3 separate regions of the Homo sapiens genome follow, and regions 2 and 3 are each linked to region 1. Evidence: fine-mapped expression QTL. A gene starts in region 1. Each other region holds a variant in brackets. All regions are shown on one strand. Distances are between the middles of the regions. Region 1 holds the start of ARL14EP (ARF like GTPase 14 effector protein). Region 2 overlaps ARL14EP-DT (ARL14EP divergent transcript). Region 3 overlaps LOC102723403 (a long non-coding RNA gene).

Evidence for each region. PIP is the estimated chance that this variant, and not a neighbour inherited with it, causes the effect. A credible set is the group of variants that fine-mapping cannot tell apart.
Region 2: its variant is the best candidate, but not a certain one, in a credible set for the expression of ARL14EP in monocytes after LPS (Kim-Hellmuth 2017, PIP 0.83).
Region 3: its variant is the best candidate, but not a certain one, in a credible set for the expression of ARL14EP in substantia nigra (GTEx, PIP 0.73).

What each region holds. Positions count from the first base shown.
Region 1 is chr11:30,321,870-30,324,636 of GRCh38, reverse strand. It overlaps ARL14EP (ARF like GTPase 14 effector protein), which reads right to left and starts at 1,533. Exons shown (of 4, transcript NM_152316.3): 1 at 1,435-1,533. It overlaps ARL14EP-DT (ARL14EP divergent transcript), which reads left to right and starts at 1,691. Exons shown (of 2, transcript NR_187437.1): 1 at 1,691-1,719. RefSeq lists a silencer at 1,304-1,433 and enhancers at 1,504-1,753, 1,266-1,871.
Region 2 is chr11:30,278,644-30,281,410 of GRCh38, reverse strand. All of the region lies in intron 1 of ARL14EP-DT (ARL14EP divergent transcript), which reads left to right. Among named protein-coding and RNA genes, the nearest start is that of ARL14EP-DT, 43 kb to the left of the region's middle. The variant C/G (reference allele first, on the strand shown) is at 1,683.
Region 3 is chr11:30,355,741-30,358,507 of GRCh38, reverse strand. LOC102723403 (a long non-coding RNA gene) reads left to right here. Exons shown (of 4, transcript XR_001748162.1): 4 at 1,607-2,767. Among named protein-coding and RNA genes, the nearest start is that of ARL14EP, 34 kb to the right of the region's middle. The variant G/T (reference allele first, on the strand shown) is at 1,496.

The DNA.
Region 1 (2,767 bases):
GAAAACTCACACGCGGCCATGATGCTTGCAAGGTCTAGGACATTATCACAGGGGTTTCGGGGTGTTAATGCAGAACACCCCCCCCACCACTAACAAAACAGCAAAACAGCCACTAACAAAACAACAGCAGAGGGAATTGAGGATTAATTAGGGAACTCACTTTTTCTTCCTAAATTTGTAGGGGAGATGCAGAAATACCCGTTCCAATATGTTAATTTCCCTTAACATAGTTTTTTAGTTTGTTACCAGTCTCCTTATTAGTGGGAAAAGTAACATTTAGAGGAAATTTAACAAAACAAAAAATTTACTTCGTTTTTAGGTCAACTGATGTCTCTTTTATGAAAAACATAAAAAAAGTTTTCATGAAATGTTTTATGAAAAAAATTAAAGGCTTTTCTTGGCATAGGGTCTTACAACTTACACAGCGTCTTCCCAGATTATCTCTTATTTAATAAAAATATAATTTAATCTACCCCTACTCCCCAAATCAGGAGCTTTAGTTATGGGTACATACGCCTACAAAAGTCACGCATCCTGCAACTGTGAACTTTTTGTGCCTGTCATCTTCAAATACTGATTACCTATAACATGACAATTGGCCCAAAGGCAAAGAGGAGAGTCTCAATCCTCAGGAAGATCTAGGTACAATAAGAAAGGTAAAGGCAATTTAAAACAAAAATATAGTCCATAACACCATTGAAAAGATTTGGTTCAAGTGTGGTAGTCAGGACATGCCAGGTACAGTGCTTAGGGCAAACATCATTTCAGGAACCTTCATAGCCACCCTGAGGAAAGTACTATCATTCTCATTTACAGATGAAGAAACTCAAGCCTAGAGCTGTTGTTATCATGCCTAACAGAGTGCCCCCAAACCCTGCAATGATTCCCAACCCAACCCTGTAAGAGGCCACATACATTTCTTCCTTAGTTCACGGCTATTTACAAATGACTAAAACCACCAGATCCGTCCAGTGGGCACCTACTAAGTTCATGGTACCGGGATGGAAAAATAAACATTAGCCTTTGGCCTCAAACGGCCAGGGTTGAAAGGATTCTGATTTGAAAAATTAAAAACAAAAATAGCAGAGATAAAGGCTGTCTACGGAGTTCAAGGCCACAATAACCCTAAGTAGTTCACGTCAAAATCGTAGCTTTGAAGGTCCTGGGCCTACAGGACAGGCGACGACCCTCAGAGAGGTCAGAGGCGGCAGAACCTGTGCTGGGCTTTGACACAAGGCGTTGCGTCGCAGATGAACTACGCGGGGGTAGGGGTGAGAGGCCCCGGCCAGCAGCTGGAAATCCCCCTCACGTGTGCGGGCCTCCTCTTCCACCTCTCCCCGGGTTCCCCCGTTACGCCGCCGGGCTCCCTCGCCACCCAGGGGCCTGTCTCCACTCTCCCACTCCTCTCCAGGGCCTCCCCCGTTCCCCTTCCACCTTAGCTTGAGCTCTCCTCCGCCCGGCTTCGGGCAAGATGCGAGTCCACACAGGCCACACTCGACCGACCGCTTCCCAGCCAGTCCCCGCGCTACCACTGAGAGGACGGCAAGCGCGGGCTAGAGGAGCTCAACGCCACCACAAAGAGACGTCCGGGAGAAGCCTAGAGCGGACACGAGGCTGGCCGCCTCCGGGGACGGAAGGGGCGGGGCGGTGTGAAGTGGCAAATGATTCAAGGCGAGGCAAGAGGTGCTTCAGATGCTGTCTTTTGCAGTCCTCCGAGAGGTTAGGGATGTGGGAGGTCCCTGGGGGCCATCTCTTACAAGACACAGTTTCCACTAAATTGGATCGTATTTGTACATCTCTACACCTGTGCGTGATAGTAAACTTTTGCACCCAAATACCCCGACCCCTGAAGGAGAGTGTGAGTTAAAAGGATCTGAAGAACGGACCCTTTGTTTAAGGTCTCACATTCTATTTCTTTAATTCAAGCGAAATATATTCCAAAATGCATCTTTTATTGTAAGCTATAAAAATAGCTATTACTTCGAGTAAAATGTAGGCTCCAGGAAGATGCTTGTAAATTTTCTCAGAACAGAAATGGTATTTTTATTGTATCCTTATTGTCTGTCACAGTATAGGTGCTCATTAATTTTTAAAGTGGGTTTTATTATCTAGAATCCAGGAGAACTGAAAGTCTCTTAAAGATTCTTGGCCTTTTAATTATCTTAAGGTCGGGATAGCAGGGAAACAAAAACTTGTTTTAAACTCCCAGTGAAAAATGAGGAACAGGTAAATAAGACAAGCCCCACCAAGGCCCAAGCGTGCTAGTAATTCTCTGCATCTACTGTAAGCTGTTTTCTGCAGTGCGTCTATGGTCCTCCCACCACTTTCATACTGCTCGCCGACTAGGCAAGCGATTTGATGCCTAGAACTAGGGAATGACAGAAAGGAAAAAACAATGAATAGTTTCTTCAACTGTGTCTGCAGGAGGTTGCATTCTGTAATTCTTTTACTGTTTACTTTGTGGTTGGCACTTTGTTAAGCAATGATTAGACAAAAACAAAATTTATTTCTGCTTCCAAGGAGCTCACAGACTAGTGAGAGAGGAATAAACAGTTAATCACAGTGTGGTGTGAAAAGTGTCATAACAGAAACACATGGATATAAACAGGATAAAATGATAGGGGCTAAAGCAGGAGCGTTCTGGGAGGAGATTAATGCCTGCATGGAACTTAATTTGATGCAATTGTGACTTCCTAGTAAACTAGGCAAGCTATCCTAAAGGTAATGAAACAGAGAAGGCTCACAGATCAAATTAAGATTATTAAAT
Region 2 (2,767 bases), 43 kb after region 1:
GTCTATAAGCAAGAAATATAAGCTTTATAAAATTCAGTGATGCTATGATAAATTTTATATGATGTGCAATATTCCACAACTAAAAAATGTAAATTTTTTTGCTAGGATACCCAAGAACTCTAGGTTGCAGATACAGTGGTCACTCCTGTCAGCCTCTTAGCATTTGACACAAGTGGTCTCTTTCTTGGAACATGTGGCCTCTAGGATACTCCATGCTTATGGCTTTTTTTTCTACTTGAAGTATTGTTGGCTCTCAGTTGCATTTCTGGGATCATCCTCATCTTTCTGACCTCTAACTGTTGGGGTTCCCTAGGCTCAGTCCCTCTACCTCTTTTCTTCTCTATGTTTATTTCCTAGGTCACTTAATTCAATCCCTTAGCTTTAAATACCACTTAGGTATTTTTCAAATTTATGTTTCCAGGGCCAGTGTGTTCTCTGAAGTCTAGACTTTTATGTGTCTTTGGATATCTAATAGCATCTTAATTTTAACATGTCTTAAACCAAATTCTTGATTTCTACTTTATCATCACCCTCCCACTCCCCATACAAAGGAAAGTAAACAAAAGAAGCTGCTCTTAGTGCAGCGGGGGTCATACACTTTCATTGATTAACTGTGTGGCCTTGGGCAAGTTATTAAAAATTTCAGTGCCTCAGTTTCCTTGTTTGAGAAGATCAAATGAAATAATACATATAAAGCATTTGGAAAAGTGCCTGAGCCCTACTAAAAATAAGGTTAACTATTAGTTATTATTATTTATTGTTACCAAAATGATAACAGTAACAACAGAACAATAATAACAATTTTTGTTGATTTTACTCTAAGGTTGTTTTCTGAATCCTAATACTTTCCACCACTTCCATGGCTACAACCCAAGTCAAAGCCATCATCCTCTCTTGCCTGGAAAATGGCAAGAACCTCCTCACTGGTCTACTCGTTTTCATTCTTGCCTTGTGTGATAGTTAATTTTATGTCAACTTCACTAGGCCATGGGGTGCCCAGATATTTGTTAGACATTATTTTGGCTGTATCTGTGAGGGTGTTTTTAGATGAGATTAACACTGGACCCAGTAGATTGAGTAAAGCAGACTACCATCCATCCCTAATGTAGGTGGGCCTCATCCAATCAGTTGACAGTCTGAGTAGAAGAAAAAGGGGAATATTCTCATGAGTAAGAGGATACACACCTGCCTAACTGCTTTGAGATGGGACATTGGTTTTCTTCAGCCTTTGGACTTGACCTGAAACGTCAGTTCTTCTTGGGTCTAAAGCCCGCTGGCTTTGGACTGGAATTATAACATCAGTTCTTTTGGGTCTCCACCATATTGACTATAGTTGTTGGGACATCTCAGCCTCTGTAACTTTCAGAGCCAATTTCTTAGAAGTCTCCTTATGCACATATGCACACATGCACACACACACCCTGTGGATTCTGTTTCTCAGGAGAACCCTGACTAATATACTCTATAAGTTTATTCTCTCCAAACAGCTAAGGGAATCCCTTAAGAGAGTAAATCTGATCACATCAGTCCCCTGCTAAAGACAGTCTAGTAGCTTTTCTTCATTCTTGAAGTAAAATTCTGAGTTATTTTCTTGAGGGGAAAGAGAGACAGAGAGAGAGAGAGAGAGATACCAACACACACACACACACACACACACACACACACACACACACACACACACA[C/G]AGAGAGAGAGAGACAGAGAGAACTTGAGATTACCATTTCTTTACTAACGGAAAATCCCACCTGTGTTCGTTCCTCCCCATAATCAGCTGGAAATAGAAATTAGAACGTGTGATAACGTGGAGCTCCAAATAATTGACTTGTCACTTTTAAATGTTAAATAACATTGTTTATTTTTAATGATATGAAAAAGTGTATTTTAGGAAATGACCCGTAATGCCTATGACATAGAAAATAAAGTATGACATGCTTATAGAAAGCACAGTCAAACAGTATGGAAAGGTTCTAAATGACTTATAGTCTCTTGAACATGTGGACCTACCATATTAGTTTCTCATGTTTCCTTCCAGAAAAGAAATTATGTGTTCATTGTCTGTATATAAAATATTTCTATTTTTTCATTCACACAAAAAGAGTATACTTACACATTATTCTGCTCTTGATTTTGCAACTCAGTAATATGGCTTGGCCATCCTTCCGTTATTAGCTAATATAGATCTTTCCCCTTGTATCATGGACTACATAGTATTCCATAGTCTGGAGATGTCATATTTTATTTAATAAGAACTAGAGTGTTGAAAAAGCGTTTGTTGTTTTCATTTTTAGCTCCAATAAATATCCTGTACATCTATCTGGATGAATTTTTGCAAGTGTGGATGTAGGTAAATTCCTTGCAATTAATTGAGAGGTGAGAGGGGAAAGGGTAAACACACTTTAAATGTTGGAAGATATCACAAATTGCCTCTAAAATGTGTAAATTTACATATCTAGCAACAGTGTCAGCATTAGTCATTGTTAAACTTTAAAACCTTTTAAAACTTTTAGTTAGTGGGTGAAACTAACATCTTATTTTCATTTATATTTCTTTAATTATGAATATAAAATTTTTCCTCAGCCTATTTTTTGGCCAAAAATATTGGCCATTATTTTTATTTTACTATAAATTATCTGTTCATATTTTTGTTTATTCTTTATTAGTTTACTTATCTTACCCTTGATTCTTATAACTTGTGAATACGTTAAAGAAAATTTTTGTGTAATGTGTACTATAAATGTGTTTCCAAGTCTTAACTGTAATTTTTATGAA
Region 3 (2,767 bases), 34 kb before region 1:
CTCTAACTCTTTCTGGTCAAAGGATATGAATGGCATTGTAACCGAGGAGACCTTTTTTAATCTTTTTTTTTTTTTTAATTCATGGAATGAATAGGCTGAGGAACTTTCTTTTATTCCAAGAGACCAGAGAGAGGGGTAGTTCTGTGACTTCTAAAATACATAGAAACTTTGTGGGTCTGAACTGACTTTGGAGCTTGGTGTTGGCAATTTAAAATTCAGTTGTGAAGGCTGGAAAAGAGTTTAGCTTCCCATGCACCTGGCTGGGTCCTGCCCTTGCTGGATTTTCTGAGGCAGACGAATCACCACTTATTTATCATTCATTTGTTAGATTTATTAAAAGTAAATAGGATCCCTGACAGCTGCTGGGCTCATATGCAGACCTGGAGCCAAGGATATGAGAATATGGGTAGCCCTGGCAAACCTCTACAGCAGAATCTGACCTCACCAAAGGGAAAGTAGCATGGCATACCAGATCCTGCCATGGACAAGGACATTCCTGAAGGCCCCAGGATGGCAAATGTCCCAACTCCAGTTCTCCAGGAATTATTGTCAGATTCTTTCTCCAGCCACAGAATATTAGGAGGATCCTCTAAGACAATGATGCTTCAAATCCAAAGCATGAGACTTTGAGGTTCTCAGGGAGGATGTTTGTCTCTTATTAATCTTTGAATATGACAATTCCTGGAGTCAGGGCCAGACAAACCCGGTTTAATTTATAGTTTTACCTCTTTCTAGCTTGGTGGTAATAAGTCAGTCTCTGTGAGCCTCTATGTCTTCATTTGCAAAAAAGAAAGAAAGAAAATAGAAACACATGATTCAAAGGGTTGTTGAGGGATTCAAATAAAATACTGTATGTAAAGCTTTTAGCTCATTGAGGGCTCCTTCAGTGAATGGTAGTTATGATTATCATCATCTTTGAATCCTTCGCACTTAGACATTGGGCATTTTGTAAATGTAAGTTCAGTGAATGGGTTCATTCTTTGATTCAACTAATTTTGTGCCTGTTACATGCCAAGCACTATTCTGCAGTGCACAGACACACCTCCTGACCTCATGGAGTGTACAGTTTGGTGGGAATACAGGAACAGAGAAGTAAATGAATGGATAAACTGTCTGAAATTTAATTTTGGATAGTAATAAGTTCCATGAAAGATATTAAGCAAGATAAGAGGATCGAAAGTGATTTTGTATATGTTTGTGTGACAGAGAGAGAGAGAAAAAGAAGAAAGAAAGAAAAGAAAGAAAGAGAAAGAAAGAAGAAAGAGTATAGCAAGTGAAGGTCTATGGGTGAGACAAATGAATAAATATAAACAGAGATTTCTTCAGGTACTTATAATGCATCTGCCCTACTTGTTTTAATACCTTTGGCCAAGTGTTCACTCAACAACATATCTCTGTACTTGATGAACTCTTGTGCTGTAGTTTCTCTTTACCTAGTGAGGTGAGATAACTCCCATTAGGTGAGTGTCTTTATTTGTTTTCATCCTTGACCTTG[G/T]GTCCTTTTTCCTAAAGTGTCCCCCACCTCCATCCCAGGACTTCATCTCAAAAATAAACATAAAAGGCAGGAAAATGCCTCCCTTTTCATATCTGACTTCTGTACTTCCAGGCTTGCCTTCCAGAAGTGGACAGCCATGGATTCAAGATGTGTCAAAATTGGAAGGAGCTTTGTTTCTATTTGGCCCTGAAAAGTGTTCCACAACTGGACTGCCATATTGAATTATTTTCAGCAGTAGAAATTCTTCGATGGCCCATTTCAGACCAGCCTCTAATTTGAAAGTAATAACATTTGGGCAAAGCTTAGATGCACTAAGTTGCTGCCGAGGGCTTGGTGGGCTTTGAGGTAATTGGTTTTACTCAGTTGCTGATGCTTCACTTGGACAAATGAGAAATCAAACTACAGCTCAGTTTGCAGAAAAGCCCGTGTCAGCAGTTTAGTCTGACTACTATTTCAGAGCTTGTTATATTATTGGCAATAAAATGCAACTAATATACTGTTAATTAATATTGCATCCTACAGCTAATTTATCACATTATTAATCAGAGTGATAAAGCCAAGGAAAATGCAGCTTACCTTTAGTGTCCTTTCATCTCTTTTAAACACTTGTATTTACGCACAAATAGGTGTTTTGGTCAACATTGTCAAGTGTTTGGGTGGTCCTGGATGAGTGTATTTTATTTGCAAACAGTAACTTCCCCCTCAGGAATATTTTATTTAGCAAGACAGGACTTAAAGTGAAAGGGTAACCATTTCTGATCGTAACCTTGGCTTTGTGCTTCTAGTAATTATCCTTTAATTTCATTACCCTATTTGAAATAGAGTTGTAATTGGAAAAAAACAATTTGACATTCCCTGATGCTTACTCTGACATGCACTATTTGCTTTTTATTCAAATGTAAATTTTCACCATAATACTATCAAAGAAAGAAAAAAAATTAAGCAAAATTGAAATGTCAGTTGCAATTTCTGACATGCAGGCAGTGTCATTCACTGGTTTTGTCTGGAAGGCAAGACTTTCACTTCAGATGGAAAAAAAAAATCAAACTGAAATTAGTATGCTTTGAGGAGAGGGAGAGATGGATGGCAGAATCACAGATCTATTCCTTTGGGATATGTGTCCACTTTGCACAGTGGCTTCAAAATATCAAACAAGCATCCAGCTATGATTTTTGGATGAATAATCCTTTATGCTTAATATAAAAAACACTTTTCCTTAAAAACTGAAAAATCATAAACTTACCTCTATTTTACCCTAGGCATCTTGAAGGT